7 linked regions of the Homo sapiens genome follow. The protein of the gene in region 1 purifies or fractionates together with the protein of each later gene. This does not show direct contact. Each region holds a gene or a part of one and is shown in the gene's direction. Other genes may lie near its edges.

Region 1 (4,278 bases):
CTGTTTACATTTTCAGGTTTGGGGCTTTAGCCCCTTGGAGAAAACAGGGCCACATAGCTGCCTTTCTATCAAGTCTCCCTACAAAACTGAGAGGCTCTGGGAAACTCAGCCTGTGACCCCAGCGTGGGTGAAGATAGGATCAAGATGGCCATGTGGCAGGGTAAGAAATTAGCACTTATTCTTCTAACTGGTTTTTCCTCCTACTCTATTCTCTACCCTCACCCAACCGTTCCCCACCCAGCCAATGGCAGGCAGCCAGCTGTTCTTTAATTTAACCCTTTGTCTTTGCAGGGACAAAACACATTAGTTTAAAAAGAAGCTGCTGCTAGCTATAAGTTTAAATTATTTAAAAGTGGGGTTGTAGGAGAAGTAGGAAAATGCCATGCCAGCAGCATTTAAAAGAACTCCCTTCATTTAAATAAGTGATCATTGGGGGTTATATGCCAGGAGACAGGATATTTTTTCCCATTTGTGTTTTTCATTTGTTTCTGGCAAATTTCTATCATAAGATTCCCCACCATAAGGTTGGGGAGACAGATGTCACTGCCTCTCCAGCTTCATCTTCCCAATAAAAACTTTGTGATGTATGCAGTTTGAAAGAGCATATTTAATGTTACAGTGTTTATATTTGATACAATATAAACATTGAGAAGGAAAACGCCTGTTTTAATAATATGAACTACCTGAGAGCAAAGCTCAGTAGTATCTTAGCTGATGTATTACATCTCTCATGAACTTGTGAATTCCTACCACATACAAAGTTATGTTTTATTTTGAGCGGAGTTGCGGTTTGTGCCCTTTGGAGGGTTTAGGAGTCTCCACGGGTATGTGGGATTTTTATTGTTATCAAAAGTGAGTGTGGGTTTAAGAAATGATAGACAAACACTACCAAAATTGGCCTGTGACCCACAAAAAGTTAAAGACCACTTAAATGGAGTGGAATGAAATAGCTTGAATATCTAGAAATATTCAGCAGGTTGGTTAGTTGGTGGTCTAATGTATCTTTTAAAAATGTTTCATTGTGTTGGTTGTGACTTTATGTAGGCACACAAATGTAACAAGTAGTTTCCATGTATAAAGATTATCAATGAGAAGACATTTATGGAAACGGGATTTGGCCTGTATGCTTCCTTTGACTCACACAATGGGCATTTATCAAGAGCAGTTTGGATATTCTTGCTTAAATCCTGAGACATTATTTCATTCAACAAACGAAATACAGAGATGAATAAGTTGCAGGATGCTAGAAGATTCCTTGTCATCTAAAGACAGACATACAAACAAATAATTTTGCCATGTTGAATAAGTGTTAGAATAGAGAGGTACAAAAAGCAAGGGAAGCCCCGAGAAAAGCTTGATGAAGTCTGAGTTTTGAGCTGGTCTAAAAAAATGAGTAGGAGCAAATGAGAGAATTGCATTCTGGGCAGACAGAGCAGCACTGTTTGGGAAGTTCCAAGTTGCTCTGTTTGCCTCATGTGAGATGTGTAGGGGCGCGACCTCAGATGAAGCAGGGAAGGTAGTTGGAGGCCAGATAATAAAGAGCCTTGTATGTTCTAGGAAGGATTTTACACTTTATCCTGAAGACAAAGATTCTAAACAGGGAAGTAACATAATCAGATTTTGTTTTAGAAAGATTACTTTGGCAGCAGTGCTGAGCTGGAAATGATGAAAACTGGGAGTCAGTCAGGAGGTTTCTGGAATAGTTTAGGGGAGAGATGGTAAGGGTCTGAGCAGAAGCAGGGGCAGTAAGGTTAGAATGGGATTCTAGAATGTTCTGTGACTGGATGTGGCAAGAAATGGGCCTGGATTAACTACCAGCTTGGGTGCCTGGGGGCCACTGGTGCCATTCTCTGAGATGGGGAGCATGGGAGGCAGCTGATGGGCATGGGGGTGGTGCACTGGATTTGGATGACCTGTTTGGGTTGAGACACCTATGTACTGTCAGGTCAATGTTTCAAAGACAGTTTTGAAAGTACAGAACTGATATTGGCACAGATGGGGATCTAAAGTTTTGTTCCTAATGATGCATAAAGAGCTTGTATTTTTTTCTCTGTAGTTAATGGAAATGTCATTACTAGTTAATGATTTATTTTACAATAAAAACATTTTAATGTTTAACAACTCTTAATCAAAATGTCATATTTTCATAGTAAATAATGTATTTTGCAAGCCCAGGCCCTGAAATCAGATGTGCTTAAAATTACATTGAAGTGAAACCTCATTTTTCCAGCATTAGTGAAGAGGGGAGTATTCTATATAAGTAAGCTCTTTGGATAACTGCAGCTTATCCTTTGTTTTGGCTAACCTCTGAAGTAACCAGCAAAGTACGATGATAGTTTGGAAGCAGTGTGGTATGATAGTTAAATGTGTGGGTCTGAGTTCTACTCCATTGGTTCTGTCACTTGGTAGCTACGAGGCCTTGGGCAAGTAACTTAATCTCTCTGTGTGGAAGTTTTCTCCTTTACAAAATGGAGATAGTAATATAACTCATCCCATTGCTGAGTATATAGCCAAAAGAAAGGAAATCAGTATTGAAGAGAGAGCTGCACTCCCATGTATATTGCAGCACTACTCACAATAGCCAAGATAGGAAATCAACTTAAGTGTCCATCACTGGATGAATGGATAAAAAACATGTGTTACATATATTCAACAAAATATTATTCAGCCATAAAAAGAATGAAATCCTGTCATTTGCAGCAACATGGATGGAACTGGAAGTCATTATGTTAAGTAAAATAAGCCAGGCACAGAAAGATAAATACTGCATATTCTCACTCATATGTGGGAGTTAAAAAATGTGGATCTCATGAAGGTAGAAAGTCGAATGGTGGTTTCCAGAGGCTGGGAAGGGAAGGAGTTTGGGGAATGAAGAGAAGTGGGTTAATGGTTATAAACATACAGCTAGAGAGAAGGAAAAAGTTTTAGTATTCAATAGTACAGTAGGGAGACTACAGTTAACAATAATTATATATTTCAAAATGGCTTGAAGTAAAAAATTGGAATGTTTCTAACACAAAGAAAAGATAAATGTTAGAGGTGATGAATATCCCAGTTACCCTGATTTGATCATTACACATTGTATACGTGTATCAAAATATCACATATACCCCCCAAATATGTACAGCTATTATATATCAATTTTTGAAAAGGGAGAAAAGTAGAACACCTGATAGGCTTGGTGTGAAGAGAAATTAAGCTAATATATGCAGAGCACTTGGAACATAGTAAATGCCATATAAGTGTATGCCATTATTATAATAGTAAAACATTTAGAATATTGTGTAGCATATAATAAGTGCTCAGTAAAATTTAGCAATAGCCGTTATTACTACTATCACTATTATTTTCTTATAACCTGGGGTGGGACTGGGACCTTGTTCTGTGGAGGTAATTTTAGGTTGTCCTTGGAAGCCCTGTCCTGTGGTTGTCTGTTTGGGTCTTTAAGTAGAAGTTTAGACTTGAAAAGATTCTTAGAAAACATCTAGCAGCCGGGCGCGGTGGCTCACGCCTGTAATCCCAGCACTTTGTGAGGCCGAGGCGGGCGGATCACGAGGTCAGGAGATCGAGACCATCCTGGCTAACACGGTGAAACCCCGCCTCTACTAAATATACAAAAAGTTAGTCGGGCATGGTGGCGGGTGCCTGTAGTCCCAGCTACTCGGGAGGCTGAGGCAGGAGAATGGCGTGAACCCAGGAGGCGGAGCTTGCAGTGAGCCGAGATCGTGCCACTGCCCTCCAGCCTGGGCGACAGAGCCAGACTCCATCTCAAAAAACAACAACAAACATCTAGCTCAATTCCTAGAGGTTAAGTGATATGCCCAACGTCAAACAGGTAGTAGTTGATCCTAGAGCTAGTATTAAAATCCAGGTCACCTAATTCCCTATTCCAGTATTCTTTCCGTGGGCTCATGGAAGAGGCAATGTGTGAGTCTGTTCTCAGCTCAAGGAAGCTTCTGAGTCAGTCTGTAGAGCTTGTTGAGGAACCCTAAGGGCTACAGGAGCCCAAATCTCCTTAGGTTCTTGGCTCATTGCTGTCTGGTTCCTCCATGGAGAATTTGATCTGAATTCCCATACCTCTTAAATGGGGCCAACATTATTTTGACTTCACTTAATGGAGCCCTCTAATATATTTTCTGGCCACTTTAAACAGTGTACTGAGCATAATTTAATATTTTTGATAACTCAGGGTTATCATTAATAACCTCCAGCCAGTTTGAGGTTGGAGACTTGTGTTGTCAGGTGTTGTTTATTTATTCCATTAACATTTATTGAACA
Region 2 (2,971 bases), on another chromosome or scaffold:
AATATTTGTAAGAATTTCTGTGAATATGCAGCTTCAGGAATCGGGAGACTCATGACTACTGCTATTAGCCCTAAGACTGCATGTATAAACCAAGAGACTTTAAGTGAAGCTTTTAACCTCCTTTCCATCTCTGTATATCTGAAATCCCAAACACAAGCTGCTGGATGCTGAAGATCCTGTATTGCTACTCATAAGTAGTAGCAGGTATAAAACAATGAGAAATGACCCTATTTGGAAATTTCAGGATTATCTCTAGGTTAGTATTGCTGCTTTTGGCACCCATAAAATCATTAAGGGGTCCAATCTGGCCTATGTCGTTTACCTAATAAATTGGTAGCATTAAGAGTCCAAAGGACAGAGTTCATGAAATTCTAAGAATGGCCTCTTTATCAGTGGTTAAAGGTTGAATATTTGCTTGAAGAAGATGACAGTAACATAACTCTAATTTCACAAGACCTGCGAGTTCTTCAGAATAGTAGACATGATATCAGCCCAGCTTCCAGGGCCATTAAAAAGCCAGTTTGTCATTGTGGTGTTTGTTCTTTCTCTCCTCAGACATTAACCTCTCTGGCCAAGCTAATGAAAGAATGCTGGTATCAAAATCCATCCGCAAGACTCACAGCACTGCGTATCAAAAAGACTTTGACCAAAATTGATAATTCCCTCGACAAATTGAAAACTGACTGTTGACATTTTCATAGTGTCAAGAAGGAAGATTTGACGTTGTTGTCATTGTCCAGCTGGGACCTAATGCTGGCCTGACTGGTTGTCAGAATGGAATCCATCTGTCTCCCTCCCCAAATGGCTGCTTTGACAAGGCAGACGTCGTACCCAGCCATGTGTTGGGGAGACATCAAAACCACCCTAACCTCGCTCGATGACTGTGAACTGGGCATTTCACGAACTGTTCACACTGCAGAGACTAATGTTGGACAGACACTGTTGCAAAGGTAGGGACTGGAGGAACACAGAGAAATCCTAAAAGAGATCTGGGCATTAAGTCAGTGGCTTTGCATAGCTTTCACAAGTCTCCTAGACACTCCCCACGGGAAACTCAAGGAGGTGGTGAATTTTTAATCAGCAATATTGCCTGTGCTTCTCTTCTTTATTGCACTAGGAATTCTTTGCATTCCTTACTTGCACTGTTACTCTTAATTTTAAAGACCCAACTTGCCAAAATGTTGGCTGCGTACTCCACTGGTCTGTCTTTGGATAATAGGAATTCAATTTGGCAAAACAAAATGTAATGTCAGACTTTGCTGCATTTTACACATGTGCTGATGTTTACAATGATGCCGAACATTAGGAATTGTTTATACACAACTTTGCAAATTATTTATTACTTGTGCACTTAGTAGTTTTTACAAAACTGCTTTGTGCATATGTTAAAGCTTATTTTTATGTGGTCTTATGATTTTATTACAGAAATGTTTTTAACACTATACTCTAAAATGGACATTTTCTTTTATTATCAGTTAAAATCACATTTTAAGTGCTTCACATTTGTATGTGTGTAGACTGTAACTTTTTTTCAGTTCATATGCAGAACGTATTTAGCCATTACCCACGTGACACCACCGAATATATTACTGATTTAGAAGCAAAGATTTCAGTAGAATTTTAGTCCTGAACGCTACGGGGAAAATGCATTTTCTTCAGAATTATCCATTACGTGCATTTAAACTCTGCCAGAAAAAAATAACTATTTTGTTTTAATCTACTTTTTGTATTTAGTAGTTATTTGTATAAATTAAATAAACTGTTTTCAAGTCAAACAGTGAAATTGTTTTTCAAAATATAAAAAAGATCTGTGTAACATTATGCATTTTCTTATGGGAGCAATAGAAGCACAAAACTAATTTGTAAATTGAATTTGCTTTTTAAATCTACTCATGAACTTATGTAAGACATCATAAGGATGTCTTACAGCTTGAATTTGGTATAAGAAAATTTGTTTCTTCCTTTGGCTGTGATTTTTTTGTTTTTTTGTGTTTTTTTTTCAGTCAGTTTCTCCAGCTGTAAGGTGAGGGTAACAAATCTCTCTGACCTGCCTTTCTCACAGGGGGGTGTTGTGAGTGTAAACGGGAAGGAGGATGTTAAAGCATTTTGTTGAGTGAAAGGTTCCACGTGAGTGTAAAGTGGTCTTATGCATCCGCCCTTGCTGCTTGGGAGAGTCCGTTCTCGGTTTTTTCACTGCTTGTACACAAGATTAAAAGGTAGAGTTAACAGTAGCCCAATAAGAGAAGAGGTGTGAACATGCCGGAATGTCTTCCAGAGGTAAGTTAATAACTTCATTAGGATGTATTTACTTGGAGGGTATATATTAGAATGACATTTTTTTAAATTACAAATCAAAATTTTAATTTGTGTTACAGATAACATAAAACTTACTAATTTTTAAGTGTATGTTAAGTGCATTCACCTTGTGCTACTATCACCATCATCTATCCACAGAACTCACGTGAAACTGAAACTATATCTGTCAAACAGTAACTCCCCATTCCTCCCTCCTTGGTCCCTGGCAACCATTATTCTACTCTGTGTCTCTGTGAGTTTGGTTACTCTAAGCACCTCATGGAATCATGTAGTATTTGTCCTTTTGTGAGACTGGTTTATTTTACTTAACATTATATCTTCAAGGTTCATTCATGTTGTAGCATGTGTTTGAATTTCCTTCCTTTTTCAGGCTGAATAATACTCCACATTTGTATATACAAACTGTTTATCCATCCATCCACTGAGGGACACTTGAATTGCTTCCATCTTTTGGCTTTTGTGAATAATGCCACCATGAACATGAGTGTGCAAATGTCTGAGTTCTTGCTTTCTATTCTCTTGGGTATATGCCCAGAAATGGAATGGCATTACATTTAACTTTTATTAAAATATTACATATATCAAAGTATACATATATAAAAGTGTACAACCTGATGAATTTTTATGAATTTATTACATCCATGGAAGCAGCACC
Region 3 (4,278 bases), on another chromosome or scaffold:
ATCTCCACTTCATAGAAGAGGAAACCAAGGCCGCACAGGGAGTAAGCATGTCTCCCTGGGTCACACGGGGGAAGGTCTGGGAATCCAAGCCAGTCTGCCGCAGTCTGAATGCCCAGAGGCCTAGGTATGCGTACCCTGGCCAAATTGCAGCACTCTTCTCTATTTTTAAAGATTGTGCTGCATAGATGGACTGGAGTCTGTAGTAGGAACGGAACCTGCAGCTCCGCCCCTACAGGGCTCTGATGGACCCTGGGACCCAGATGTGGCCTTCTCCCTGGGTGACCTTGCCTCTGAACATCTTTGAGCTTCACTCTCCTTGTCCCTAAAAGGTAGTAAATGCTCTCTACTGGAATGTTGCTGTGAGAACTAGAGACAACTTTTGGAAGGGCCCCGAGCCATCCTAGAGTGATAGCTGAAGGGACAAGGGATAGGCTAGGTCTTAGAGGACCATTTACAGGCATTTGTGGGGAGCTGCTGTGTGCTCAGCTGTATATTTTCTGGATAGCAATACAGTCTACCCAGAAAGACCAGGCAACAGTGATGGGGCAGGCTGTAGTACATGAGTTTAGAATAAATTATAATTGATTTCCAGCCTACTTCCACAAAAGAATCAGAAGAAATAGCCAACAAAAGTGTCTCCCCAAGTGATTGTTACTCTCAGGAAGATTGAAAACCATGCAGAGGAAGGGGGCAAGCACTCAGGTGAGACAGATGGTGACTTTATCTAAAGAGTAAATTTAGCTTGGAGATTCCTGGCAGCCAAAGCAGAAAGAGAAGTAAGACGAGCTGTATAACTGGCATTTTCTGACAAAATGAAGCACCTGATTTATCAAAGGGAGACACTTTTTTTGTCACAAAAATCCAAAAGTAATTTTCAAAGGCTTTTCACTGAAGAGCCATTAATGTCATTAATGTAAGAGGCAGAGTGTTACTGGGTTTTCAGATTTTTCTTGGGACTCCTTCTGATCCTGAACAAGCATGGAGGGTACAGCAGATATCATAGAGTGTCCGACATGACCCCGCCTGGCTTTAACATGACACGGTGGACTGTCTTGACCTCTGGCTGCCTTTGTCCACTGTGCCATTGGCATTGACCTATGTGAATGTGGGGCTGAGCTGCTTGGCTCACTTAGCTAGTCCAGGTTGCTGGGTGTAGCAGGTGTGCCACTTTCACATGCTGTGGGAAGGAAGAACTGACTTTGCCCCAGAAACTGTCATGGGCACACTTGATTTGTTAGTTTCCTTGGGGGATAAAGAATCCACAGCACAGCACCTGCTGAGTGGTTGTTGGCTCAGAGAAAGCAATTGAAGCCTCATGCTGATAGCAAGAGATGTATCAGATACAGGAGGATGCCTCAATCAGCATTCTCAGCTGCAGTCAAGAAAAATGAATTGTGGCCTATGTAAACAGAAAAGGTTGGCGGGCATGGCCAGTGCATGGCCCAATCACACCACTAGCCTGGGCTGGTGGTGACAGTTCTGTTGCCATCTCCATCACTGGACACCATGCCAGTCCTTCTCATGTCAGAACTACATACTGCTGCCATCCAACACCAAGATGTGTGCTTTCCATTTGCTGTGAGGCCTTGAGCCAGGGCCGGGGCTGCGAGGGTAGCTGGGGTGGAGGGAACACTCAGCACCTAGAAAACGAGTGCTTGGCGTTCTGCTTGGTGGGAAGCTGGGAATGGCACCCACCGAGACTCATAAGGGACAAGAGTTGGAAAACAGGGAAGAATGAATGATAGGAGGCCAGAAAAAACAGTCGAGCTTTGGGAGTTGAGGCAGGCTTATTGAAAAGGAGCATTTCACTCCTTTTGGCGAGATTTCTCAGAGCTGGGGCACTGGCTCATCAGCCTAGGGCTGTAGGCGGAGGTTTGCCTGGGGCAAGCGGCGGGATCTGCGGGCAAGGGGGCCATTGTGTTGCTCCTGCCAGCAGTCCCAGCTCCCATTTTTCTCCCTGCTCAGTCCGACACCCACCCGTCCGACTTTCTTAGGCAACCCTAGAAGGCTCCTGGAATCCACTTCCGCTCTCCACGGCCTGGGGCTTGCCCCACCTCCCGGCATGCCCCGGGCTGCCCTGCAGGACGCCCCCCGCGCAGTGCATGGTGGGGTAGCCAGCCGGCCACCTTTGGGCCATGGCAGCCGAAGGTGCTGTGTGCGGCTTCGTCTATCTGGAGGGCACTGCCTGGGCGGTCCCTGAGGACACCGAACCCTTGGCATCCTGCACATTGGGTACTCCGGAAAGACCGGGAAAGGGACTGGGGCGTGGAGGCGATCTGGGGGCGGGTCAAACGCTGGCCCCGCCCCTCTGCAGGCCCCGTCCCTCAGTGTCCATACGTGCTTGTGCTAGGGCGCCTGCGCCCTCACCTGGATTCCCTTCACTGGAGGGAATGATGTCCCAGGTTTTGGTCACTGGCCTCTCTCTGGCTATCCCTGGGCCTTCAAGAGCATTGGCACGGTGCCATGTGAAAACTGAGTTGCAACCTGGTGACACTGCAGCTCCAAAGTGCTCCACAGAAATGATTTGGGGACTGGCTTTCTGGGAAGGGGCCCAGGCTGGGGGGCTCAGGAAGCAGGCCCTGATTGTCCCTCTCTCTTCACAGGACATGGCAACCACAGAGAGAGCAGCCCTTTTCTTTCCCCCTTGGAGGCTTCCAGAGGAATTGACTACTATGACAGGAACCTGGCACTGTTTGAGGTAGCTGAGGAGCCATTTTGGGCCACAGGTTTGGCACACAGAGGCTTTAGCTAAGCAGGCAGGCTGGACACGTGGGCCTCCTCTGTCTTGCTCTTCCTCTCATCTCCTCTTGTGTTCCTGGTTCTCATGGCAGCCGGGCTGCAGTTCCCTTGGCCCTTTCAACTGAAACTGCCTTTCCAGAGGCCACTCACAATCCCACCCCCATTGCTACCTCCAGGGTGGTTCACCTCTGACTTCCTTACAACCCCTCAGCAAGGAAACGCCCGCTTAGGATTTCCCAACTCAGGATTTCTCCTCTTCCTTCCACTCCTGGTTCTTCTCCAAGTCCATGGTTCTTCGCTCTCCCATGGATTCTTCCTTGTCTTTCTTGGTTGACCCTTCCAGCTCTGTCCCTCTCTAGTTCCCTGAGTCCTGGTCCATTTGCAGCTTTAGGGGATACGTCTCTGGAAAGATTCCCAAATATCTGCCTCTGTACTTGAGTTTTATCTTCTTCAGACTCAAGCTGAGCAGTGAGATCTGGATTTAAGACGTAGTTTAAGCTCCTAAACTCTGACCCATGCATTCAGCCACTGCATGGCTGAGTAATGGAGACTCCTTAATCTGCCTTTTTTTTCTCTTTCTTCATTTTGAGATGGAGTCTCACTCTGTCGCCCCAGGCTGGAGTGCAGTGACGCGATCTCAGCTCATTGCAACCTCTGCCTTCCAAGCTCAGCGATTCTCCTGCCTCAGCCTCCCGAGTAGCTGGGATTACAGGTGCCCACCACATGCCTGGCTAATTTTTGTGTTTTTAGAGACGGGGTTTCACCGTGTTGGCCAGGCTGGTCTTGAACTCCTGACTTCTAGTGATCCTCCTGCTCAGCCTCTCAAAGTGCTGGAATTACTGCTGTGAGCCACCACATCTGGCCGAGGCTCCTTAATCTCCACATGCCCCCAAGGGCCCTCGTCTTCCTTTCTCACACCAAAGCAACTTCTCCCTGTGTGTAGGTCAGAAAGGAGCTGACAGAGAGGGAAAAGCTAAATGTGGGCAGGAGGCAGGTAGAAGCACAGCCTCGAGAAGGCTGCAGGAGCAGGGATCATCGCCTAGACCCCGGTGGGGCTGGGGGACCTGAGCTCTGGGAGGCCTCCTGACCTGGGAAAGCAGCAAGGTTCTGCGGTGAAGGCCTTGGCCCAGCCCCGCCTGAGGATGGGCTGGAGGATCAGGATCCCATCTCCGCGATTGATGTGGGTACTTGCAGGACTGGGGTCAGGGGAAGACCATCCAGGGAGATCAGGGTTTGGGCAGACAAGGGAGACTTCACTTGTCCCAGACATCACTCTTTTGCCCTCTTTGGTTCCCTGAGGTGACTAGAGTGGCTTTTTTGTGGGGAGGGTAGGCGTGAGTCCTAGAGGTGCAGCCATAGCCAGGAGGTGGCTGGGCAGAGCAGGCAGGATGAAGTATGCCATTGCCCCCCTGCCAGCCGTGTTCTTCCCTGCCCTCTCTCCCCTGAGGCAGGTGGTTTTCACAAATGGGCTGGCAGTGATTGTAGCCAAGGCGGGGTAGAGAGAAGCAGCCGCGGGGCTGGGCCTTTGAGTGCCACGTG
Region 4 (4,278 bases), on another chromosome or scaffold:
CCAGTGTGCTAATGTATCTAATTGTGCCCTTCAGGTCTTGGTTCATAGACACACATTCATTTCTATTTTATAGTCACTATATATGCATACCTAATTATTCTTAATTTAGGATTGAGAGCTTTTCTTTAAAATTCTTAAAAAGATGACACTTATGACAAGTTTTTAACACTTTGGAATACATAGAGATAATATCTTCAATATGTAGACTATATATTTGATTAACATATTAATAAATTATGAGGAACATATATTTAAAAACTAGTTAGCCAAAATGTTAATACAGGCTGAGTATCCCTTATCCAAAATGCTTAGAATGAGAAATGTTTTGAATTTCAGATTTATTTGGATTTTGGAATATTTGCATATATAAATAATGACATATCTTGAGGCCAAGACCCAAGTCTAAACACAAAATTTATATATGTTTCATATATACCTTATACATAGCCTGAAGGTAAATTTATATAATATTTTTAATAATTTTGTGCATGAAACTAATCTTAAGTACTTGCGGAATTCTCTATGGCATCATGTTGGTGCCCAAAAAGTTTCAGATTTTGAAGCATTTTAGATTTTGGATTTTTGGATTAGGGATGTTCAACCTGTACTCTCCCTTCCCTCCCCTTCCCTTCCCTTCCCTTCCCTTCCCTCCCCTCTTCTCCCCTCCCCTCCCGTCCCCTCCTCTCTCTCTCTCTATATATAATATATATTGAGATATATATATGTTTTTTGTTTGTTTGTTTTTTGAGACAGAGTTTTGCTCTTGTCACCCAGGCTGGAGTGCAATGACACAATCTCAGCTCACTGCAGCCTCCGTCTCCCAAGTTCAAGCAGTTCTCCTGCCTCAACCTCCCGAGTAGCTGAGATTACAGGCGGGAGCCACCATGCCCGGCTAATTTTTGTTTTTGTTTTTTTTGTAGAGACGGGTTTCATCATGTTGGCCAGGCTGGTCTTGAACTCCTGACCTCAGGTGATCCACCCGCCTCGGCCTCCCAAAGTGCCGTGATTACAAGCATGAGCCACTGCACACGGCCCTATCTCTCTGTATTATATGACACATTTGGTCAGCTTCTGATTATCCAAGGGTTTGCTTTTTGGTATTTTTGAAACTTATTTTTTTTAGAATGTTGATTTTATAATGAAGTAAATAAACTTATTTAAGATTGAATTGGAAAGATAATGGAACTTCACAATCAGTTCATTTTGTTATAATTTCTTAGCTCCCTTGTAATGACAAGAAGAAAAAGTAACTGAAAAGAAACATGGATATCTTATTTCTATTTACCCATTAATTAGACAGTATAGTTGCTATTGCAGTTTTTGCTATACCAGTCCTTACTGTTTTCTTGAAATGTCTTAGATATGTCTGAATTTGTTCACCATGCACAAATGTGCAACTTTAATTTTGCCTCCCAAAGATAGCTTTGATTTTTTTTTTATGCTAGATTTGTTTTCTTTGCTAACAAATGTTTACATTTTATCTTTTCCAGGAATGGGATATGGAGATAGAACAAGCACATTTTGTGGCACTCCTGAATTTCTTGCCCCAGAAGTATTAACAGAAACTTCTTATACAAGGGCTGTAGATTGGTGGGGCCTTGGCGTGCTTATATATGAAATGCTTGTTGGTGAGGTAAGCAGTGTGAAATAGGTAAGAGAACAGAGGAAGGATGATTGAAATAATAAAGCATGTCATTTATAAAACCACCTAATACTGTCTTCAGTATGAGTGGAATTTAAGTTTTATAAATATTTATAGTATACTAGTAGTCAGCTATCTTTCTGTAATACCTTCAATAAAGATTTTTATGTGGTTTGTGGAATGCACTATCAGTGCTTTGAAAATAGTTCCTTGTATTTCAGTATTGTACTTTTATTATGTTTTCTGATTTTAAGACATAGTCATTTTATAGGGAATGGAATAACAGAAAGACTAATAAAAGGAATGTACTCTGTACCTGTAAAGAAAAGCCCACTATAGATTGGTCAGAAATAAATGTTACCTTCGACTTCCTCCAGACTTCCGTCTGAGCAACACACTCTGCATCCTTGCTTCACCGGGAAACTACTGAAGTTCCTGGGGAAGCAAAGTAGAATTTCGTAAGAACAAAATGGATGGAGAGAGGAGAAAACCTATGGTAGCTGTGAAGGCCCTGATGCCATGTATGTCAAATTGATATCATCCGATGGCCATGAATTTATTGTAAAAACAGAACGTACATTAACATCAGCACGATAAAAGCCATGTTGAGTGGCCCAGGTCAATTTGCTGAGAATGAAACCAATGAGGTCAATTTGAGAGAGATACCTTCACATGTGCTATCAAAAGTATTCGCTACACCAACAGCTCCACCGAGATTCCTGAATTCCCAGTTGCACCTGAAGTTGCTATAGAACTGCTGATGGCTGTGAACTTCCTAGATTGTTAAATAAAATATAATTTTAAAAAAATGAAAGAAGTGTTACCTTAAAAAATGGTAGAGTTGAAAAAATTCGCATTTTTTCCTACTGTTTTCTGTAGATTAACTTAAATTTCTGAGGATAATTGAGTTGTACATAGAAATTATTACTATTAGGAAACAGTGAGTTATGTTAAGGCAATAATAGGAGACTAATAATTTATTATGTTATAAATTGTTAGAAATGTTGAATTGGGATGAAATTGGGAAAGAGTAAATCTTTTAATAAGTAATTGAAGATTACTTGAAGGGACTTGAACTGGAGATGCAAGAAAAATTATTTTAAGGGATTGGTTCATTATTCTGCAGTTTCCCCATGCCAGCAACCTCCCTTGTACACTTGTAAGTTTGAAGAAGTTAGTGCTGAATGAACAAATTATCAAATTGAATATCAGAAATTTCTAAAGTTTTGTTCTATGCTTGTCATTTATTGGCACTTACCCCAAACAAATGGTTTTAGTTTCGCCGGATGGATAACCCCTTTTGGTATGTCAATTTGAAGTGGATTCCTTGGAAAAGGAGGAGAAGTATGGCTAATTAAAATTTATCATGTGCTAAGCACTGTACTGTATGCCTTAAATATTAGTTCATTTAATTTTGCAACAGCCTTTAATAAGCTCAGTACTGATCTTCTGCCCATTTTCGGAGGTGTAAATAGAGACACAAAGAGATTAATGACTTGCTTAAAGTCACACAGCTCTCATATGGTGGAGCTGGAATTTTAACCTTGTCACTCTGGCTCCAGAGCATATCTAAAGCATTATGCTTTGCTGCTCCAGGACAGGATCTTCAATTCATCCAGCCTTGTTTCTGTTCTTAAGACTAGTGGTCCAGATCTGAATTTTTCACCTCTATTTAGAAAAGCTGTTGTGCAGTGTTTAGGTTGGAAAGATTTATTTTAGCTCCAGTCCACAGTGGCTTTTACTTTCTGAGAGTGCCAGAAGTTCTCATAAAATAGTTAATCTGCTGTAAGCTCTGGCATACTTGAACTCCTCCCCACCCCCTTCCTTTATTTTAACAGTAACATTTTGGAGGGTTTTTTTGGTTTTGTTTCATGTAGTATTCAAGTAAGTATGAGATTTATGAGATTCAATTATGTGCTTGCTTAAAATTTACTCTCCATATTAGAGATGACATGTGCAAAATATGAGTTTATTACAAAATACTGTAGAATTAATCCAGTTGAATCTACTCCCTCCTATTATAAAGCCACTGGAGGGTTTGGCAGAAAACAAGGAAGCTCCTGTTTCATGTTTTTTAAAAGAGCTAATTGATTGAGCTCTTAATTACCTAGAAGATAAAAGACAGTGGATCTGGCTATTTCTTCACAGTTGTTTCTTGCAATTTCTCTTTAGTATCTCCACAAGAGGGTAGCTGGGAAAAGAACTAAACTTAAAACTCATCAGTCTACTTCATAATTTTATAGCATTAGTGAAATGCTAGTGATAACTCCTTTTTAACTATGATGAAAGTAAGGTGTGGCTAAAGTTTATGTCAGATTTCTCTATTATTACAAATAATTGTAAACTCACCGGATATATTATACATGTTCAGATTTGTATACTTCTACTAGTTTTGATTACTGGAAAGACTCCAGGAATAAACAAACATCGCAAGTCCCCTTTTTCCTGTCTCAGATGGGAGTGAAGATACCAGAGAGATTGAACAGAATGCTGGACATGGTTTTAGATACTGTCAGTGTTGACATCTGAACAGACTATTGGTTTCCTTTAAATGTGCTGAAAACACATTTGTTAGCTTTCAGTTGTTAGCCCTGTTTGCTTACAATCTATTTGCAGAAAAAAGATACTACATATTT
Region 5 (4,278 bases), on another chromosome or scaffold:
TCGGGCACCATCATGAAGATCGGCATCGAGGCCAAGGTGCGTCCTGCCAACACCCTGGGCCCCAGGTCCCATCCCTGCTGTCAGTGCCTATCCGGGGCCATATCCTCCCCCAGGCCCCCCAAAGGAAGGGCTGGGCCAGATAGGTTGACGCAGCTCCCACCCGCAGAACTTGGCGAGCTACGACGTCTGCAGCATCCTCCTGGGCACCTCGACGCTGCTGGTGTGGGTGGGCGTGATCCGCTACCTGACCTTCTTCCACAACTACAATGTGAGTTTTGCACATGCAGCTGGGCCTTCCACATGGTTACTCCACACCCTCCAAATAAATCCCTACACACGCAGCCCTCACCAGCCCCGGCCAATGGCCCCTTGCAAGCCTCCTCCTCCTACCTGCCCACACCAGATATATCTGTCACTGCACCTGCGCGGGGCCCCGGGAGCCTGCTCCTTTGTGCCCACCCAGCTGAGTCTAGCCGTGCGTTGCCCTCGGACCCCCTCAGACGTGGCCACGCCCCCTCTAGGCACCCACTGGCTCCCATGACCACACCGGCTGTGCCCTCGGCAAGGCCCCGCCCCTCCCACCCCCATCTGGGTGCCCACAGCTGACCTGAGTTGTGGCCACACCCTCAACGAGGCTCCCTCTGCCCCAACCCAGATCCTCATCGCCACACTGCGGGTGGCCCTGCCCAGCGTCATGCGCTTCTGCTGCTGCGTGGCTGTCATCTACCTGGGCTACTGCTTCTGTGGCTGGATCGTGCTGGGGCCCTATCATGTGAAGGTACATCTAACCCCTGATGTCCCTGACATTGACCCTGTGACCTTGTCATTGACACTGTGACCCCCAGATGACCCCTTGGTGACTGCTGGGAGTCTGTCCACTGTCCCCTGTGGTCCTTGGTGACCCTGACACTGACCCTGTGCCATTATTGTTGTCACAGTTGTTGATGACCCTATTTCGACCTGAATTACTCCCCTCCTGCTCTATCTACCCAGACCCTAGGTCGGCCCTGTGGCCCTGTCATTGACCCGTGGTCCCGGCCATTCACATGGGACCCCAGCCTGGGACCTGGCCATTCACATAGTGACCCCAGCCTGGGACCCGGCCATTCACGTGGGACCCCAGCCTGGGTCCCGGCCATTCACGTGGGACCCCAGCCTGGGACCCGGCCATTCACAGGGGCCCTAGCCTGGAACCCGACCATTCACATGGTGACCGCAGCCCGGGACCCGGCCATTCATGTGGGGCCCCAGCCACCAGCTCCTAGCCATTTGCATGGGACCCCAGCCTGACCCCAGCCCCCGGTTCCTGGCCATGCCTTGGCTCCCTCTGACCCCGCCGCCCCTCTGGCAGTTCCGCTCACTCTCCATGGTGTCTGAGTGCCTGTTCTCGCTCATCAATGGGGACGACATGTTTGTGACGTTCGCCGCCATGCAGGCGCAGCAGGGCCGCAGCAGCCTGGTGTGGCTCTTCTCCCAGCTCTACCTTTACTCCTTCATCAGCCTCTTCATCTACATGGTGCTCAGCCTCTTCATCGCGCTCATCACCGGCGCCTACGACACCATCAAGGTCAGCCGCATGCACCCAGCCCTGAGCTCGGGCTCTGGGTGCCCTGGAGTCTGCCATGAGGGGGTCTTGGGGACACCGCAGGGTGAACAGAGAAGACCCAGGAGAGAATATGGGAGACTCTATGAAACCAAAAAGAGGGTGGTTCAGAACTGGGGGGCGCAGGGGGATGTCAAGGTGGGCTTGGGCCAGGAGGGGGCCTGAGTCAGTCTTTGCCAACAGGGCAACCGAGTCATAGAGTTTATTTATTTATTTGTTTATTTGAGACGGAGTCTTGCTCTGTCACCCAGGGTGGAGTGCAGTGGTGCGATCTTGACTCACTGCAACCTCCACCTCCCGGGTTCAAGCAATTCTGTCTCAGCCTCCTGAGTAGCTGGGACTACAGGCACACGCCACCACGTCCAGCTAATTTTTGTATTTTTAGTAGAGATGGCATTTCACCGCATTGGTCAGGCTGGTCTCAAACTCCTGGCCTCAGGAGATCTACTGCCTTGGCCTCCCAAAGTGTTGGGATTACAGGCGTGAGCCACCACGCCCGGCCTATTTTATTTTATTATTAAAGTATTGTTCTTTATTTTATTAGAGACAAGGGTCTCACTGTGTTACCCAGGCTGGTTTCAAACTCCTGAGGTCAAGTGATCCTCCCACTTTGGCCTCCCAAAGTGCTGGGATTACAGGCGTAAGCCACCACACCCAGCCTATTATTATTATTTTTTTTTTGAAATGGAATCTTACCCTGTGGCCCAGGCTGGAGTGCAATGGCATGATCTCGGCTCACTGCAACCTCCACCTTCTGAGTTGAAGCGATCCTTGTGCCTCAGCCTCCTGAGTAGCTGGGATTACTTGCACGTGCCACCACACCTGGCTAATTTTTGTATTTTTACTAGAGATGGGGTTTCACCACGTTGGCCAGGCTGGTCTCGAACTCCTGACCTCAGGTGATCCACCTGCCTTGGCCTCCCAAGGTGCTGGGATTTCAGGCATGAGCCACTGAACCCAGCTAAGTCATACAGTTTCAATGACCTTGTCATTGACCCTGGGACGTTGCCATTAACATGGTGATCCTCAGCTGGCCCCATTCCTATGGCGGACCTCTAAAAACCCAACCCTGACCCCAGCCCCCAGCCATGCCCCCGACTCCCTCTGACCCTGCCCAAGGTTAGCTTCTTTATTTATTTATTTTTTTTGAGACGGAGTCTCGCTGTGTCACCCAGGCTGGAGTGCAGTGGTGCAATCTCGGCTCACTGCAACCTCTGCCTCCCGGGTTCAAGCGATTCTCCTGCCTCAGCCTACTGAGTAGCTGGGATTATAGGCACACGCCACCATGCCTGGCTAATTTTTGTATTTTTAGTAGAGATGGGGTTTCACCATGTTGACCAGGCTGGTCTCAAACTCCTGACCTTGTGATCCGCCCACCTCAGGCTCCCAAAGTGCTGGGATTACGGGCGTGAGCCACTGTGCCCGGCCCAGGTTAGCTTCTGAGCAGTAAAACTGGGCTCAACCCAGGGCTGTCTGATTCCAGAAGCCGTGCTCCTAACCCCTCTGTCCTCAGTTTAGTAGGGTGGCTGGGAACAGTGGTTTCCCTGCAAGCTGCAAGGGTCAGGGGACAGAGCAGGATGCGGAAGTGGCAGGTAGATAGGATTCTTTCAGCAGATATATCTAAGGGCCAAGATCTGTGCTGGGTTCTGGGCATGGAGGAAAATCAGGTGTGCATGATCCGTCCAAGGCCTGTGGGCAAGGATGGCACAGGAACAGACATCCCATGACCAATGACCTACTTGTAACAGGTATGAAGGAAGAGTGGAAGGTTGCAGAGGGACCCCTGCTTTAGATTGGTATGACAGGAGATCCAGGAGAGCTTCTAGAATGTTCTATCCATCACTAGTCTCTAGCCCTATGCAGCTATTTAAATTTTGATTTTAATTCCGGCTGGGCACGGTGACTCACGCCTGTAATCCCAGCCCTTTGGGAGGCCGAGGGGGGGTGGGGGTGGATCACCTGAGGTTAGGAGTTCGAGACCAGCCTGGCCAACATGGCAAAACCCCATCTCTACTAAAAATACAAAAAATTAGCGGACGTGGTGGCAGGCACCTGTAATCCCAGCTACTCCGGAGGCTGAGGCAGTAGAATTGCTTGAACCTGGGACGTAGAGGTTGCAGTGAGCCGAGATCAAGCCACTGCACTCCAACGTGGGCGAGAGACCGAGACTCTGCTTCAAAGACAAAACAACAATTTTTTAAAAATTTTAATTCAAATGAAGTACAATTGCAAATTTAGCCTCTGACTTGCACCATCCTGTATCCAGTGCTCAAAAGCCAGTGTGGCTGGTGGCTGCCATATTGGACAGCATAGATATTGAATACTTCCATCGCCTCTAGACTGAAGAGATGGGAGCCCAGGGGCAGTGCACCGAGGGGAAGGAATAGCTAAAGCAAAGGTCTAGTAGCCTGAAAAAACTTGGAGAAAAGATGGCCCCTCCATGAGGCCGAGTGAGAGGAAGGAAGCCTTGGCTGGGACCCTGCCACATCCAATGTCACCGGCAGATGGGTACACCCCCTTTTCCCCATGCATGGATTCAGCTGTCCCACAGACACATTGACTCAGGCCCTTGGAACTACTTCCTGTCTTGCCTTAGCACGTAGACATCACACACATGCATCCACTCAGGTGGGCAGTCTCAGGCCCTGCTCCCACTGCTGTGCTCAGCGTGCATC
Region 6 (4,278 bases), on another chromosome or scaffold:
AATTACAGGCACCCGCTACCCGCCCAGCTAATTTTTGTATTTTTAGTAGAGACGGGGTTTCACCAGATTGGCCAGGCTAGTCTCGAACTCCTGACCTCAGGTGATCCACCCACCTTGGCCTCCCAAAGCGCTGGGATTATAGGCTTGAGCCACCGTGCCCGACCTGCTTTGTTTTAATCTTTGTTTTAACAGACTATGAAAGAAAACCCATGCATTCATATCAATACCTACAGCAAAGCATTTGACAAAATTCAACATCTTTTTGTGATGAAAATGCTCAGTAAACTAGCAACAAAAATAACTTTCCCTAACTAGACTAAAGGCATTTATTAAAAACCTACAGCTAACATCATATTTAATGGTGAAAAATTGTTTTTTCTTACAACTCAGAATAAGGCAAGGATGTTTGCTTTCACCACTTCCACTTAATATTGTACTGGAGGTTATAGTCAATGCAATAAGGCAAAGAAAGGAAGAGAGGGAGGGAGGGAGGCAAGGAAAAAAGGAAGAAAGAAAGAAAGTGTGGCATAGTACACAATGAAATACCATTTGACCATAAAAAAGAAAGAAGTCATGTCATTTGTAGCCACATGGAGGTTGCTATATTAAGGTAAATAAGATAGGCACAGGAAGACAAATACCACATGTTCTTGCTCACATGTGAATGCTAAAGAACATTGATATCGTAGACATAGAGAATAGAATGATATATACCAGAAACTGAGAAGGGTGGTGGGTGGATGAAGAAAAGTTGGCTAATGGGTACAAACACACAGTTAGATAGAAGAAATAAATTTTAATGTCTTTTTTTTTTCCTTTTTGTGGAGAGAAGTCTCCATACGTTGCCCAGGATTGTCTCAAACTCCTGGGCTCAAGCAACCCTCCCAGTTTAGCTTCCTAAAGTGCTGAGATTACAGGTGTGAGCCACTGCACCTGGCAAGTTCTAATGTTTTATAGCATGATAAGGTGACTATACTTGGGTGACAATATTTAGCATATTTCAAAGTAACTATTAATAGAAGAGAGGACATGAAATGATACTGACACATAGAAAGGACATATATCCAAGGTGATGGATACCCCAGTTACCCTGACTTAATCATTACCCATTCTATGCATGCAACAAACACTCACATGTACGCCATAAATTATGTAAAATATTATATATTAATAAAAGAAAAAAAATTAGGCCGGGCATGGTGGCTCATGCCTTTAATCCCAGTACTTTGGGAGGCTGAGACAGGAGGATTGCTTGAGCCCAGGAGTTCCAGACCAGCTTGGGCAACATAGTGAGACCCCATCTCTACAAAAATAAAATATTAGCCAGGTGTGGTGGCACACGTCTGTGGTCACAGCTACTCGGGGCTGAGGTGAGAGGATTGCTAGGGGGCTGAGGTGAGAGGATTGCTTGGGGCCAGGAGGTGGAGGCTGCAATGAGCCATGATTGTGCCTCTGCACTCCAGCCTGGGTGACAGAGCAAGACCCTGTCTCAAAAAAATATATATGTCAAAAAATGTATATATGTGTATATATATATTTATGTGTATGTATATATGTGTGTGTGTGTATATATATATATGTTTAAGTTAAAGATGGGGGGAAAAAAAGGAAGGGGCATATAGATTGGAAAGGAAGTATTAAAACTTTGTTTCAGGTGACATGATCCTCTATGTAGAAAATTCTAGCCGGGTGTGGTGGCTCACACCTGTAATCCCAGCACTTTAGGAGGCTGAGGCGGGCGGATCACGAAGCCAGGAGATCGAGACCATCCTGCTAACATGGTGAAACCCTGTCTAAAAATACAAAAAAATTATCTGGGCCTGGTGGCGCGTGCCTGTAGTCCCAGCTACTCGGGAGGCTGAGGCAGGAGAATGGCGTGAGCCCAGGAGGTGGAGCTTGCAGTGAGCTGAGATACCGCCCCTGCACTCCAGCCTGGGTGACAGAGCGAGACTCCGTCTCAAAAAAAAAAAAAAAAAAAAAAGAAAAGAAAATTCCAAGAATGCCACAAAAAGGCTACTAGAATTAATAAGTGAGTTTAGCAAGGTTATAGGACACAGTACAAAGTCAAAATACAAAAATATGTTTTTTTTATATACTAGCAAAGTTCCATTGGAAATCTCTTAAAACAACATTTTCTATTATATGTACCTGCCAGTTCTTAACATTTATTATCAGAAGTAACTAATTAAATTATTCTTTGTCATTCTTCTAGGGGAACTTATGACATTTTAGTAACAAAAGATAATCAAACCCGCTCTGTTGGTCAATATGACAACCGTGGCAGTTTTGGAGAACTAGCTCTGATGTACAACACCCCGAGAGCTGCTACCATTGTTGCTACCTCAGAAGGCTCCCTTTGGGGACTGGTGAGTGAGAGAAATCGTTCCCCTTGCAAGGCACAGTATTAATTCCCTTTCTGTGTCTCTGTCCTTGGGCTGTTGATTTACACTATATCTTACAGCCATCCTGGCTAACACGGTGAAACCCCATCTCTACTAAAAAATACAAAAAAAATAGCCAGGTGTGGTGGTGGGCATGTGTAGTCCCAGCTAGTTGGGAGGCTGAGACAGGAGAATGGCGTGAACTCGGGAGGTGGAGCTTGCAGTGAGCCGAGATCGCGCCACTGTACTCCAGCCTGGGCGACACAGCGAGACTCCGTCTCAAAAAAAAAAGCACTTTATTGTGACATCCTGATGTTAAATTAAGAGTGCTCCTGAAAGAGATACAGTGACTTAAGGATAGGTCACACACTTGGGGACTCAATGATTGAAAAACTCAAGAATAGATTTGTATAGGGGAATAATAAATAATGGGGGCCAGGCACGGTGACTCACACCTGTAATCCCAGCACTTGGGGAGGCCAAGGCGGGAAGATCACTTGAGGTCAGGAGTTCGAGACCAGCCTGAGCAACATGGTAAAACCGTGTCTCTACTAAAAATATGAAAATTGGCCAGTCATGGTGATGGGCGCCTGTAGTCCCAGGAGGCGGAGGTTGCAGTGAGCCAAGATCACGCCACTGCACTCTAGCCTGGGCGACTGAGCAAGACTCCATCTCAAAAAATACAAAATCAAATAATAAGCCTTGGTGCTAACTACTGGTTCAGACCAAGATGGAATAGCCCTATTCCATGCTAGTGTTCTCACTTAAAAACTTAAACACACACACAAACAACTATGGACATAATAGAGCAAACATAGGAAGACTCTGAAAGGTGGAAAGAAGAAGGCAGACTATCTAGGGATATTGGGGCTTGAGGAAAGACATGACAGTGAGTTCCCAGGTTCCCATATATCCCAGATGGGGTGCTGGAAAGCCTGAAATCCAGATCTTCTAACAGGTATATTCAACAAAAGCAAAACTCCATCTCAAAAACAAAACAAAACAAAAGAACGAACAGCTAAACAGAAAATCAGCTAGTGTCAGCTAGGATATAGAAGAACTTAACACCATTAATTAACAAAAGCTATCTGAAATTTATAGAACACTGCACACAGCAACAACAGAATGAACATTTTTTTCAAGCCCATGGAACATTCACCCAAATAGGCCATATCCTGGAATATAAAATAAAACTTAAAAAATGTAAAAGATTTGAAATCAGGCCAACCACAGTGGCTCAAGCCTGTTATCCCAGCACTTTGGGAGGTTGAGGTGGGAGGATTGAGTCCAGGAATTTGAGACCTACCTGGGCAGCATAGTGAGACCACATCTCTATTTAAAATTTTAAGAAATAATGAAAATTTAAAGAAAAAATGAAATCAGAATGTGTTCTCTAACTACAATTGAAAGAAAGAAACTAAAAATCAATAACAGATCTCCAGACACTTAGAAATTAAATAACATTGTTTTTGGTGTGAGCAGGGGCTAACTGCAGCCTTGACCTCCTGAGCTCAAGCAATCCTCCCACCTCAGCCTCCCAAGTAGCTGGGACTACAGGTGTGCACCACCACACCTGTCTTTTTGTTGTTGTTGTTGTTGAGACAGAGTCTCACTATGTTGCTCAGGCTGGTCTTGAACTTCTGGGCTCAAGCAGTCCTCCTGCCTTGGCCTCCCAAAGTGCTGGAATTACAGGCATGAGCCACTGTGCCCAGCCAAATAACACATTCTTTCTTTTTTTTCTTTTTTGAGATGATCTTGGCTCACTGCAACCTCTGCCTCCTGGGTTCAAGCGATTCTCCTACCTCGGCCTCCTGAGTAGCTGGGATTACAGACGTGTGCACATGTGCCACCACGCCCAGCCAATTTTTGTATTTTTAGTAGAAATGGAGTTTCACCA
Region 7 (3,844 bases), on another chromosome or scaffold:
CTCCGAACAGACGCGAAAACAAGCCAGGGCCCGCGCGGGTAGACCTGGTAGGCGGGTGGGCGGGGCGAGGGCCACTTCCGGGGTGTGGAACCCTGTCGAGCCCCGCCCCGAGCCCCGCCCCGAGCCCCGCCCCGGGCCCTGTGGTCCCGGGATGAGCTCTCCGCGCAGCCAGGCTCGCTCCAGTGCCCGCCCAGCGCTGACTTCATTGGCTGCCTCCCCAGTCCCGCCCCCAGGGGGGCCCTGCTGATGTTCGTAGCCAATCCGCAGGCGCGGTGGCAGCTGCGGGTCGCGGGTCGCGGGTCGCGAGTCGCCGGTCGCCGGTCGCGGCGGAGCCTGGGCGCTGAGGTACCGGGGCCTGGACGAGGGGGCCGCGGTCTGGCTAGGGAGCCGCGCGGGCTCATGGCGGTACGGCGACCTGGCCTCGCTCGAGGGTTCGCGGGCGGGCCGCCCCTCCCCGGGCTCCTAGGGGGACGCTCCAGCTGGAGGGGCGGTGACCGCGACTGTCGTGGGCTGGCCCCAGGTGGCTAGGGTTGGGGGTCAGAGGTCAGAGGTTCTGCCCTCTGGAATGTTAGGGCCCCGCCCGTGGAGCCGTGGAGCCCTGGGGCCGGGCCGCTCCCCATTTTCCTGTCAGCTCTTGTTGAGGTGCCCCATCTTTTCGCAGAAGGGACTTGGAGGGAAGCGGGCCTGGAGCTGCTGCCGCCGCCCCTGAGCTCGGACGCGAAGGCTGGCCCCGTCCCCGGGCTGCCGCCGTGGTCCTGCAGGTGACCCTCAACCCCCCGAGGACCGCCGGCCGCCTCCCGCCTCCGGGCAGGCTCAGGAGCGCGCGGAGCGGGGTGTGGGCCTGTGACCCTCGAAGGCGTGGGCGGGGAGTAGGGGGTCGAGCTGGGGCCGCAGGCTGTCCCCGTACGGGCTGCTCCCCTGTGGCTCCGAAGCCACCTTTTTCTGAAGTTGTCAGCCCGCGTGTTTGAGATTTCGTTTCTGGAATCTCACGCGAACAATCTGGAGAGAGGAACAGGGGTCTTGCGGCTTTGGCTGTTGACTCAAGGGGAAAATAAAAACCAGACAATGGGGATGTAATGAATGCAAAGTGACCCGTGAGCAAACTGGACGCTTTTCTCCGGCTGACAGGCATGAGTTCTCCCCGTAGCTTGCCCCACATACTGTGAGTTAAACTGTGTCAAAGTAAGAGCAGTTTAGCCCCACAGTTCTGAGCAAGAGTCCTTAGCGCTGACCTTCTTAGTGAAGATACTTTGCAATGTGTAAAATATTGAATACAAAATTATTGTGCAAAGCTTCTGAGTTGAAGATTCTGAGTGCGCGGAGGCTGGCGGCAGCCCTTACTTGCCATTGCAAGGATCTCAACTTACTACTCTGAGAGCAAAAGTAGTTGTTTCTTTACAGATGTGGGTTTAGGGGAGACAGCTATGGATGAGGAACAGGGGCGGGGTTCGTTTTCTGCACAAAACGTATGCGATTAGAAAAAACAAAGGGTTTTTATTCTGCCTATCTTCTTCCATCTCAGCCAGCATAAGCACATTCTTTTTTTTCTGTTGATGATGTATGCTGAGTATTTGCAGCGATTAGGAAAAGGAATACTCTCTAACAAGACACTTCTCTTTAAACGAGGCGGTGGAGGGATGATTATGTCTTCTGTGGAATTAACCCTCCGGCTTGATTTTCAGTGAAGAAAATGAGGCACGAGGAATTGTTAACCAAGACCTTCCAAGGCCCAGCTGTTGTGTGTGGGACTCCGACCAGCCACGTATACATGTTTAAGAATGGCAGTGGGGACTCGGGGGACTCTTCTGAAGAAGAGTCTCACCGTGTGGTTTTGCGGCCCCGGGGCAAGGAGCGCCACAAGAGCGGTGTCCACCAGCCTCCCCAGGCGGGAGCAGGTGACGTGGTGCTGCTGCAGCGGGAGCTGGCCCAGGAGGACAGCCTCAACAAGCTGGCGCTGCAGTATGGCTGCAAAGTAAGACACCCCTCAGGGGCCCTGCCCCGCTCCGTTTCAAGGAACACGGGGAACTCACTGCAGGGTGGGTGCCCTTGCCGCCCTTCTTAACCCTGCCAGGCCGTCAGGAGAGGCCTGCTGTAGCAGCCAAGGACTCCCCTATTTAGCCAGAATTGGAATGCAGGTGGGAGTACCTTTAGTTCCCAACCCTGGCCCCCAAAGAGGGAGGGTTAGCGCATTTCTTTCTCTGCAGGGAACTTCTCCTTTTCCTGTTTTCTCCACACTGAAATTCTGAAACCTTTTTTCTTCTTTCGAGCACATTTTATTTTAGACCTAATGGGGCTGGAGATACCAGGCAGAATTTAATTCCGGATTTCTATGGTATGCTTGCTTTTCTCGCTGCTCTTATTTTTCTGAACCTTTCTTGGTGGTAGCTTACTTGACTTTTGGTAAAGTTTTACCTTCTCTCGTTTAGAACTGCATGGTCTTTTGTATGCTGTGTATCTATATAACCCTGTTTTTCTCTAATTATGTTTTCAGCATTCAGAGTGATTAACAATGGCAAAGTAAGTAGGAAAGTATTTCTAGAATTGCTGCATTTTCTCCTAGATTGCAACTGTTTCACTTTGCTAACACTGTGCTACAGATTTGTATGGCCTTCTCTAGGGGTATATAAGCTACTTAATTTAAGAAATCTCTTTCTCCTACAAGTGTCTTATCTAACAAGGTCCAAATGTCTGAAACATGTTGTGTGGGGTGTTGCGGTCTTTCAGGGAAATAAACAGGTTGGTCTCCGGGGACACATAGTGGTCTTTAAATTGTACTGACAATTATATTTGGCTCCGATAAGCAGCTTCTGCAGGCATACTGTGTGGCTTACAGAACATGGGCTGAAAAATGAAGCCTGTCCTACAAAGACCGGAATAGATGGAGTAGGCTTCTTGGTATGGTGATGTCTAAATCCGTAAAGAATATATAAAGCCTTTGATAAGTGATCAGTTTTCCTATTTGAAGTAAATAAATTTGCTCTTAATTTATTGAAGGCAGAGACAGAAAGATCTCAAGGGTCTCATGCATTAGATTCAGGACATAGTGAATTAAAAATGTCCCCTACCCCAAATCAGTTACAATAACAGCAGTTGCTGAATAATAATGGAAATGATTGATTTGATTGAGATCTGTTGGCTGTATTCACTTTCTAGTTTAAGTGGACTTAAGTGTTAAAAGTTTGGAGTTCATCTCTGATGCTTTTGGAAAGTTTTCAAACATTAGTTTGAGGGAGGGGTTACCCTTTGACTTACATTCTCCCTGCTTCTTAAATCTTCGTGTTTGATTATGAGAGGAGTTTGTCATGAACTTTGTTACTTGATAAAACTCACAGCATTATTCCTTTTTCCTGACAGTTAAGTACAGTAACTGTAAGTCACTTTTATTTAATAAGTTTACATGCCCCACAGTGTTTCTGGGAAAGAAAATGCCGAGGGCATATCTGTCAACTTTATTACAGGTAAACTGGATTTTGAGTGTGTCTGCAGAGCTGGCTGAGGCTGTGTGTTTGGTGAATGCTAACATCTGGCAGCCACTGAGTTCTGGCATGAGGGGGAAGGCAGGCAGATGGGGGCACTATTGCCTCAAAAGTGAAAGGTGGAAAAGGCTGCAACATTCCTTTCAGTGCCATGGTGGTTTCGCCCAAAGCGATTTGTTGCAGTCACACTTTAAACAGTTTAAGAAAGATCTGTTTTTCAAAACTGATCTTAAATTGTTCAAACCTGTAAATCTTTAGGAATATCTGATTACTAAACTATATATTGAGGTTGAGTGAAAGCCAAAAAAACAAAATTTCAGCCTAAACTAACTTTGTGTACAGCTGCAGTTTTCCAGTCTTCATCAGAT

What was found.
Region 2: the proteins of CLCN5 (region 1) and ACVR1 purify together in Homo sapiens (co-immunoprecipitation; one large-scale study listed by IntAct). This does not show direct contact.
Region 3: the proteins of CLCN5 (region 1) and SLC12A4 fractionate together in Homo sapiens (co-fractionation; one large-scale study listed by BioGRID). This does not show direct contact.
Region 4: the proteins of CLCN5 (region 1) and PKN2 fractionate together in Homo sapiens (co-fractionation; one large-scale study listed by BioGRID). This does not show direct contact.
Region 5: the proteins of CLCN5 (region 1) and MCOLN1 fractionate together in Homo sapiens (co-fractionation; one large-scale study listed by BioGRID). This does not show direct contact.
Region 6: the proteins of CLCN5 (region 1) and PRKAR2A fractionate together in Homo sapiens (co-fractionation; one large-scale study listed by BioGRID). This does not show direct contact.
Region 7: the proteins of CLCN5 (region 1) and LYSMD4 fractionate together in Homo sapiens (co-fractionation; one large-scale study listed by BioGRID). This does not show direct contact.

What each region holds. Positions count from the first base shown.
Region 1 is NC_000023.11:49,925,155-49,929,432, forward strand, and holds part of CLCN5 (H(+)/Cl(-) exchange transporter 5), read left to right. Parts: intron 1-16; 5' UTR 17-144; coding exon 145-160; intron 161-4,278. UniProt on the Homo sapiens protein: Proton-coupled chloride transporter. Functions as antiport system and exchanges chloride ions against protons. Important for normal acidification of the endosome lumen. May play an important role in renal tubular function.
Region 2 is NC_000002.12:157,735,250-157,738,220, reverse strand, and holds the end of ACVR1 (activin receptor type-1 precursor), read left to right. Parts: intron 1-555; coding exon 556-690; 3' UTR 691-1,775; downstream 1,776-2,971. UniProt on the Homo sapiens protein: Bone morphogenetic protein (BMP) type I receptor that is involved in a wide variety of biological processes, including bone, heart, cartilage, nervous, and reproductive system development and regulation.
Region 3 is NC_000016.10:67,961,885-67,966,162, reverse strand, and holds part of SLC12A4 (solute carrier family 12 member 4), read left to right. Parts: intron 1-2,110; exon of another isoform or gene 2,111-2,135; coding exon of another isoform or gene 2,136-2,232; intron 2,233-2,603; coding exon 2,604-2,698; intron 2,699-4,278. UniProt on the Homo sapiens protein: Mediates electroneutral potassium-chloride cotransport when activated by cell swelling. May contribute to cell volume homeostasis in single cells. May be involved in the regulation of basolateral Cl(-) exit in NaCl absorbing epithelia.
Region 4 is NC_000001.11:88,826,991-88,831,268, forward strand, and holds part of PKN2 (serine/threonine-protein kinase N2), read left to right. Parts: intron 1-1,490; coding exon 1,491-1,633; intron 1,634-4,278. UniProt on the Homo sapiens protein: PKC-related serine/threonine-protein kinase and Rho/Rac effector protein that participates in specific signal transduction responses in the cell.
Region 5 is NC_000019.10:7,528,935-7,533,212, forward strand, and holds part of MCOLN1 (mucolipin-1), read left to right. Parts: coding exon 1-36; intron 37-166; coding exon 167-268; intron 269-655; coding exon 656-778; intron 779-1,351; coding exon 1,352-1,567; intron 1,568-4,278. UniProt on the Homo sapiens protein: Nonselective cation channel probably playing a role in the regulation of membrane trafficking events and of metal homeostasis. Acts as a Ca(2+)-permeable cation channel with inwardly rectifying activity.
Region 6 is NC_000003.12:48,771,043-48,775,320, reverse strand, and holds part of PRKAR2A (cAMP-dependent protein kinase type II-alpha regulatory subunit), read left to right. Parts: intron 1-2,212; coding exon 2,213-2,366; intron 2,367-4,278. UniProt on the Homo sapiens protein: Regulatory subunit of the cAMP-dependent protein kinases involved in cAMP signaling in cells. Type II regulatory chains mediate membrane association by binding to anchoring proteins, including the MAP2 kinase.
Region 7 is NC_000015.10:99,729,846-99,733,689, reverse strand, and holds the start of LYSMD4 (lysM and putative peptidoglycan-binding domain-containing protein 4), read left to right. Parts: upstream 1-1,682; 5' UTR 1,683-1,690; coding exon 1,691-1,972; exon of another isoform or gene 1,973-2,267; coding exon of another isoform or gene 2,268-2,332; exon of another isoform or gene 2,333-2,481; coding exon of another isoform or gene 2,482-2,517; exon of another isoform or gene 2,518-2,895; intron 2,896-3,844.